Linked DNA regions of Homo sapiens: all the other regions are linked to region 3. Evidence: fine-mapped expression QTL. A gene starts in region 3. Each other region holds a variant in brackets. All regions are shown on one strand. Distances are between the middles of the regions.

Region 1 (2,765 bases), 55 kb after region 3:
CCAAAATGCTGGGACTACAGGTGTAAGCCACTGCACCTGGCCATTTCTGTTGCATTCTATTGGCCAAAGCAAGTCAGAGTCAACCCAGATTCACAGGATGGGGAAACAGACTCCACCTCTTGATGGGAGAAGCTGTAAAGTCACATTGCTAAGGGGGAGGATATAAGGAGGAGACTAGTTGGAACCATTTTTGCAATTTTGGAAGATAACTGCTATCTTATTCAAGGAGGTTACACAACCTCTCACTTTTCAAACATCCCAGATTTCTATAAATCTCCATCTCTGGCTTGGTGGCCCCTAAGAATTCTCAATCCATTTTGGTGAGGGGACATTTAGTGATGAGTGTTGTCTTGCTACATGAGTAGTTCTATTATTGGCATTCCCTTGCTACTCATCCATTATTTATAATGCTTTCCTGTATGTATGTGCAATTATATTTCTGTGTATATTTTGAGAAATAAATTGCACTGGTCCCTTTTCTTTCTCACCCCCTAGAGATGTTATAGAGACAGTAAAAGTGTCCAAATTTGTGAGAAATTGGAATAATCAAGCATTACCTGGATGGAATGCTATTAATGATAGCGATTCACGCTAGAGTCCCTTTCATCTGAGACACTCAGGATCTGTTAAGAGATTAAAAGTACTAAAAGACACCGATCTAGAGAATTTTCATTATCTTGTGCTCTGAAAACTCAGAAGTTCATTGGTTTGAATGGGCCCGAAAATACATTTTTATTACTAGGGGCATAGAAGCCTCTAGCAGCATTCTTAATAAAGCAAGGTGAGTTATAAGCAATCCTTGGATGAAGGGTAAATGTACCACACTCCATTTTAAGAAAAATACAATATAAAAGCCTTAGCATGGAAGAAAATCTTTATATGATCTTTTAAGAAAACTCAAGAAAAATAGAGACATGACACAATATTAAATTTAAAGCCAGGGACTTAGAAGCAAAGAAAAGCAAAGACAGTCTGATTAAGGTTGTTGCATTGTTCTGGCATTTTTTATGTCTCTGCCGTTTCTCTGGCCTTTTTAGATCATAAGCTTTTAGGGCACATGGAACAACTCCATCTTGATATAGTACTGAGCAAACGCACCAAGAGGTTCTCAATAAATGGGCATTAAATCCTAAGTCCAGAAGGGACCTTGAGATGCCCTCTGTTCACTCCCTACTACACCTGGTGGTACTGTGTTTTAAGCAACCCAGAAAAACAGATTCCTTTTTCTTTAAGTCTCCAAATTCAGAGACTCCACAATATGAATTCATTTCTCACCTTTGCCTTGTGCTCTTTTTTAATGTCAGTTTTTTTATTGTGGTAAAAAACACATAACAAACTTTACCATCGTAACTATTTTTAAGTGTCTAGAATGGTAGGGTTAACTATACACACAGTGCTGTACTACAGATCTCTAGAACTTTTTCATCTTGCTAAACTGAAACTCTACG[C/T]CCATTGAACAACCACCATCCTTCTTCCTTCCCTCCCAACCCCTGACAACCACCACCTTACTTCCTGTTTCTAAGAGTTTGACTGTGTTAGGTACTTCATATGCAGTATTTGTTTTTTTATGATCTGCTTATTTCACTTAGCAAAATGTCCTCAAGATTCATCCATGTTGTTGCATGTGATAGAATTTTCTTCCTTTTAAAGGCAAAATAATATTCCATTGTATGTATAGACCCCATTTTGTTTATCCATTCATCCATCAATAATATTTGGGTTGCTTCCACATCTTGGCTATTATGAATAATGCTGCTGTGAACATGGGTGTACCATGTCTCTTCAAAACCCTGTTTTTAACTGTTTTGGATATATTCCAGAAGTGGGATTTTTGGATCATATAGTAATTCTATTTTTAATTTTCCTAGGAATGTTCATACTGTTTTCTATATCAATTGCACCATTTTACATTCCCACTAATAGTTCACAAGGGTTCCAGTTTTTGTGCATCCTCTCCAACACCTGTTGTTTTCTGTTTCTTTTTTTTTTTTTGTAGTGGTTTTACTAATTGGTGTAAAGTTATATCTCATTGTGGTTTACCTTTGCATTTCCTGGATTGTTAGGGATATTTAGCATTTTTTCATATGCTTGCTGTTCATTTGTATATTTTATTTGGAAAAATATCTATGTAAGTTGTTTGTTCATTGTTAAATTGTTTTTTTTTTTTAATTTTTATTTTTGAGACAGAGTTTCATTCTTGTTGCTCAGGCTGGAGTGCAGTGGCATGATCTTAGCTCACTGCAACCTCCACCTCCCAGGTTCAAGCAATTCTCCTGCCTCAGCCTCCCGAGTAGCTGGGATTACAGGCATGTGCCACCACATGCCCACCTAAGTTTTCTATTTTCAGTAGAGATGGGGTTTCACCATGTTGGCCAGGCTAGTCTCGAACTCCTGACCTCAGGTGATCCACCTGCCTCGGCCTCCCAAAGTGTTGAGATTACAGGCGTGAACCACCACACCCAGCCAGGTTATTTTTGTTGTTGTTGCTCAGTTATAGTTTAAATAATCTGGATATTAATTCAGTTATTTACCATATTATATGGTCTGCAAATATTTCTTACCATTTTGTACTGCCTTTTTGCTGTTTATTTTGATGGGCAGAAATGTTAAAGTTTATGTAATCACATTTATCTATTTTGTTTTTGTTGCCTGTGCTTTTGGTGTTGTATACAAAAAATTATGCCAAACCAAATCCAATGTCATGAATCCTTTCCCCTATGTTTTCTTCTAGAAGTTTTATAGTTTCACATCTTATACTTAGGACT
Region 2 (2,765 bases), 730 kb before region 3:
AGATATTACAATTAAATCCTTCTTTGGCCACCTGCCCTGCTTCCAGTCCAGGGGCGTTCTTCCAGGACTCATTCTGTTCATTTACATACATACGTATTCACAGATATACTGGTGAATATACACATCTATGAAAATACAAATACATTTCATTTTTCAAAATAATTTTAACATGTTTCCTACTGTGCATATTGTTCTGCTGCTGTTTTCACTTAACAGTATGCCTCTGAGTGCTTTCCATGTTGTAGTTCTCTGTTTTATTACTTTCAACTACTATATGGCATTTGTATACATGTAGTACTTGAAAGTATTTCTTCTGAATCAAAGTATTTCTTTTAAAATGCCATTCCTGTAAATCTCTGCTGTCCAGTATAGTAGCCACCAGCTAAACGTGGTTACTGAGTATTTGAATGAGACTGGTATGAATTGAGATGTGCCAGAGTGTAAAATACAGACCAGATTTTGAAAACTTAATACTAGGGGGAAAATAATGTAAAATGCCTTATTAATAATGTTTTATATTGATTACATGTTGAAGCAATAATATGTTTCATATATTGGGTCAAATAAAATATATTTAAATCAATTTCACCTGTTTCTTTTTACCTTTTTTTAAACTTTATTTTTGAGACAGAGTCTCACTCTGTTGCCCAGTCTGGAGTGCAGTGGCACAATCTCGGCTCACTGCAACCTCTGCCTCCTGGGTTCAAGTGATTCTTGTGCCTCAGCCTCCCAAGTAGCTGGGATTACAGGCATGCGCCGCCATGCCTGCCTAATTTTTGCATTCTTAGTAGAGATGGGATTTCACTATGTTGGCCAGGCTGGTCTCAAACTCCCTGCCTCGAGTGATCCTTCTGCCTTGGCCTCTCAAAGTGCTGGGATTAGAGGCGTGAGCCACCGTGCCCAGCACTTTTTACTTTTTAAATGCAACGATTAGAAAATATGAAATTACTGATGTGGCTAACATTGTATTTCTATTGAATGAGTCTGCTCCAAATAATGGGCATTTAGGCTTCTTACAGTTCATCTGAAATCAGAAGAAAAAAAGTGCCACAGTGGACACTACTATACATCAGTTGTTCTCAATGGGATGCTATCTGGCAAAGAAACACTCTGGCCACAACTTAGAGGGGTAACTGGCACTGAGTGGAGGCCAGGGTTGCTGTTAAACATCTGGCAATGCACAGGACAGTCTCTCAAAGCAAAGAACTGGCTGGCCCCAAATATCACCGGTGCTGAGGTTGAGGTTGAGAAACCCAGTTAAGCATAAATCCTTGTCCACAAGTGGGAGTGCTT[C/CT]TTTTTTTTTTTTTTTTTTTTTTTTTCTGAGACAGGGTCTCACTCTGTCACCCAGACTGGAGTGTGGTGGTGCAGTCTTGGCTCACTGCAACCTCTGCCTCCCAGGTTCAGGCAATTCTTGAGCCTCAGCCTCCTGAGTAGCTGGGATTACAGGCGTGTGCCACCATGCCTGGCTAATTTTTGTATTTTTAGTAGAAACAGGGTCTCGCCATGTTGGTCAAGCTGGTCTCAAACCCCTGGCCTCAAGTGATCTGCCCGCCTCAGCCTCCCAAAGTGCAGGGATTATAGGCGTGAGCCACTGCACCCAACCAGGAGTGCTTCTTAAAGGTAGATCTTAAGTCATGGAATTGCCTGTGCTTTTGAAATGTTCATACACAACACCAAACTGCCCTTCAGAGTGGATATGCCAGTGTTGTCTCCCATCAACAGGACAAGAGAATATTCAAATTAATCTTTAAAGAACAAATAAATAAATCCAGCTAGAAGAGTTTGAAAGGCTTCAATATGTCCACTAAATATTATAAGTTTGTACAACCACCAACAGGAATGACAATACAACTCTAAGTCCTAGAGTTTTAAGTAATATTTGGAAGTTTTAATCTACCCTCACCCTTTTATGAAATGTCTTTTATGATCCCAGAACATAACTCACTTTGGGTCCTGGAATTGTTAATTTATAAACTAACTGACCAGTATATCTCTCTGCTTTTCAACTGTGGCCAAAATTTGAATCTCAGGAGAGTGAACTTCAATAGTCTCAAATGCTACGCTAATTAAAAATAATAATAATTATTTGTATTTGCCATATACCCAGGGCCCCAAAGCTCTATTTTCCCAAAAATACTGCCCTTGGAATAACCTTCATGTGTACTAACTGATAACACAAGTCATGTGCCTGGGCCCAGTATCTGTTCTCAAACATACTGCATATTTATTATTTAGAGATGATCCTGCCAAACAAATCAGCAAGTAGAAATACATTATATATCTAAATCTGTTATGCAAATCCAGAGGTACACTTAATATAAAATGTATTGCTCCCATATATTTACATTTTACCTAGTCTTTAGGAAGCAAGATTATTGACCTACTCCAATTTTCAATTTCCATGTTCACAAAAATGCAAATTTTCACTAACATGATTCATGTTCCAAGGTTTTTTAATGACATATCAATATAAGATACTCTACAGCCATAACCTCTTTAGGTAAATTCTAACCCTTATCAGTCTCCTCTGCTGTGAACTTCCAATAAAGAACTAACTTTAACTATCATCCTGGAGTGAATTTGAATCCTGAATTCATTCTCAGTATGCAGTATAGCAGGCAAAATAAGATGAGAGCTACAAATAATTACAGTTAATTCTAACTAGTCACCATTTTCTTCCACAAGTTTTAAAAAAAATGCTTGTGGGGCAGTTTTCCAGGGTAAAGATATTCCGGCTGGGTGTGGTGGCTCACGCCTGTAATCCC
Region 3 (2,765 bases):
CTCAGCCATATCTTTTGGGAACAGAGGACCAAATGGATGTGCTGTCCCTTCTCCCAACCCACTACATGGGACTGTGTATAGCCCTGGTGTTAGGAACTAACTCCAGGAAGGATGAAGGCTGACTCCCTTAGTCTCCAGTAGATAAGCTGCTAGGGGCAGCTACTAATATATAATAACTGAGTTATTTACGTAAAATAATGGATATGTGATGCTTCTTGCATGCCTGAGTTTCTGGGCTGAGATTTATTCTGTCTTGAATGTCGCGGTTTTCTTAATGAAGTTGCTGAGGAACGCAGGGGCCTTGTTCATTTTGCCTTTTTCTGGAAACTTTGTCCTCCAATTCCCAGATCCAGAGCAGTGCCTCTGCTCTCAGCCCCATACCGCCCACATTCTCATTAGGAAAAGCAAACAAAAGCCAAAGTCCTGTCCAGTTACAAGCCTTCTCTAAACGGGGCAGTTGGACTGTATATATTCCTGGCGCATCAATTTTACTCAGACAGGGAAAATATTTTTACATTAAAAGAAACTAGGTTAAATTATGGTAGAGAATGCAAAATTCACAGTTTAAAAATGATGAAATTCCAGACTTCAAAGGAACTTCTTTCTTGCAGGGTAGGGGGAGGGTATTCTGTTTCAGAACCCCATGCGGGTCTCCACTGGAGTTCTTTTGAGAAGGACACTTCTGTGGAAAAGTTTGAGCAGCTCTGGCCCTGCGCCTGGCCTGGCTAGGGGCCACCTTCTTCTGGTTTGGGCTGCAGCGCCCTATGGGTATCGCGTTCTTGTTAATATCTCCTCACGTTTCTAAACTCACAGCTTGTCAGCGCGGGCGCAACCTGAGAGCTGTCGCAGGTTTCCAGCTCACTCGTTTCCCAAAGGAGGAAATGGAGAATCAGCGACTTTAAAGGACTTGCCTGGCGGGCATCCACGCTTCCCAGGCTATCGCTCCTCCCTGCGTCCTTGGCCACCTCCGTTCTTTAATCCTGCAGGAACTCAGGACCCACGTGCAAATACAAAGAACCGTATCCACCCACCCCCGGCCCTTCTTCATCCTGCGCTTCCAACCTTGGGGGGGTCCTCTCTCTCCACTGGGGTATCTGACGCCCGTGGGGGGTGCTTAGAAAAGTTTGGTAGATTAGTGACTGGTGGTTCTGGAACAAATACATCACAGCCCAAACTGGGGGCTGGTGGTGGAGAGGTGGGTGGATGGGGGCTACAAATCTGCTCGGCAACTGCCCTTTCAGCCAAGAGAGAGGAGCTGAGGTCCTCTGGGGTTGGAGGACTGGAACCGGCCAGATTGCGGGCTCAAGGGGCGAAGGCAGGTTGGCAGGGGCAGCCTCTTCCCGCCGCCCACAATCCTCGGGCGGGCGCGCAGCCGAGCCGGCTCGGCTGGCTGGCGCAATCTCGCGCGCTCCTTGCATTGATCAAAAATGGGGGTTGAAACAGTAAACGCGAGGAGGAGCAACTGCTTCGACTCGGCTCAGAAGCGCGACCAATGGGGATGTGAGCTCCTTCGCGCGAACCAATTAGCGCAGGGCCTGCGACAGCACGGGCCAATGGGGCGCCGACTCGGCGCAGGAACAAGGCGGGGGTTCGGGGCCGGCTGCAGACTCTCACCGCAGCGGCCAGGAACGCCAGCCGTTCACGCGTTCGGTCCTCCTTGGCTGACTCACCGCCCTGGCCGCCGCACCATGGACGCCCCCAGGCAGGTGGTCAACTTTGGGCCTGGTCCCGCCAAGCTGCCGCACTCAGTAAGTCCCCGCGAGCGGGCGCCGGGAGTGAGGTTCAGGCGGGAGCACGCACGCGGGTGGGTTTGCATCCCTGCGTGTGGCAGTCGGATTCCCGCTCCCTGCCTTGAGTCCCCTAGGCGCTTTGCATCAGCGTGCACAGCGGGATCAGCAGCTCCGGCAAGCGGGCTTCGGGAAGAATGCAGTTGGTGAGGAAGCTCGGCGAGGCGTGCCCGTGCAGCTGCCCCTGGCCCTGACTGCTGGTGCGAGGCAGTGCACGACTCAGCTGGCCGGGGCCTGCTGTCCCGCCGGTGCCACGCACCTGCAGACGCCCGGGCTGTGCCATCTCCTGGGCCGGTCCGGGGGCTGGGGCGGGGCGAAAAAGAAAAAGCTCTGATCTCTGCCTTCGCCTCGCGCAGCTGTGCGGCGAGCCCGGGCAGTGTGGAGCGGATGCATGAATGGACATAGTGTGAATGAGTGATGAACGGGAATGAACCGATGACAGGTTTTGCATATGCAGTGGATCACGTTAGCTGAAAGGGATTGCAAACTTAAAGGTCCGCGTGTGCGTGCCCCCCTACGCCTTACACCAGTGTTTGCTTTAGCCAGCACTTAGGAACACTGCTTTTCAGAAATGTAAATTTGAAAACCTTCAGTCCAGCTTTCCCCTCCTTGTCCCCCATAGAACCTACCCTTTCCTAAAGCCTTTCTCCCCACCCCCCTCCTTTTTTTAACCTGCTTGTCCCCTAAAGGCGTTCGAGTATTCTAACTCTGGTAGACTTTGGGCTGCTTAACCCAATTCCCTGTTCATTTCGTTCTGGAGTAAACCGAGTGATTGAATTCTCTCCCGGGCCACAATCAGATCTTGCTGGTGGAACTCACTCTCTGCCTTCCCAGGCCCCAGCCCGGCTCCTCCCCTCCCCCGCCAAACCCACCGTCCCCAGCCCCACCCGCAGTGAAGAAGGCAAAGTCTCCGATGTGCCTTGAGCCCATTGTCAGGCGGCTGCCGCCGCCGTTAGATTTTTATTTTTCTAACCAGGA

Direction of the effects. Positions count from the first base shown, and alleles are read on the strand shown. Sizes are in standard deviations (SD) of each study's normalised expression. Not every link is listed here.
For the expression in rectum of the gene that starts at base 1,603 in region 3, allele CT in region 2 goes with a lower level than allele C (large effect, 1.8 SD a copy in CEDAR).

What was found. PIP is the estimated chance that this variant, and not a neighbour inherited with it, causes the effect.
Region 1: its variant is fine-mapped to the expression of PSAT1 in T cells (TOPMed, PIP above 0.99). The same link has a PIP of 0.9 or more in CD4 T cells, blood mononuclear cells, memory regulatory T cells, naive CD4 T cells, naive CD8 T cells and whole blood.
Region 2: its variant is fine-mapped to the expression of PSAT1 in rectum (CEDAR, PIP 0.95).

What each region holds. Positions count from the first base shown.
Region 1 is chr9:78,350,552-78,353,316 of GRCh38, forward strand. No RefSeq gene overlaps it. Among named protein-coding and RNA genes, the nearest start is that of PSAT1, 55 kb to the left of the region's middle. RefSeq lists an enhancer at 1-221. The variant C/T (reference allele first, on the strand shown) is at 1,449.
Region 2 is chr9:77,564,852-77,567,616 of GRCh38, forward strand. The region is part of intron 1 of GNA14 (G protein subunit alpha 14); the gene reads right to left. Among named protein-coding and RNA genes, the nearest start is that of GNA14, 82 kb to the right of the region's middle. The variant C/CT (reference allele first, on the strand shown) is at 1,294.
Region 3 is chr9:78,295,523-78,298,287 of GRCh38, forward strand. It overlaps PSAT1 (phosphoserine aminotransferase 1), which reads left to right and starts at 1,603. Exons shown (of 9, transcript NM_058179.4): 1 at 1,603-1,748. The coding sequence starts at 1,689. RefSeq lists enhancers at 689-958, 849-1,432, 1,433-2,016 and a silencer at 1,969-2,208.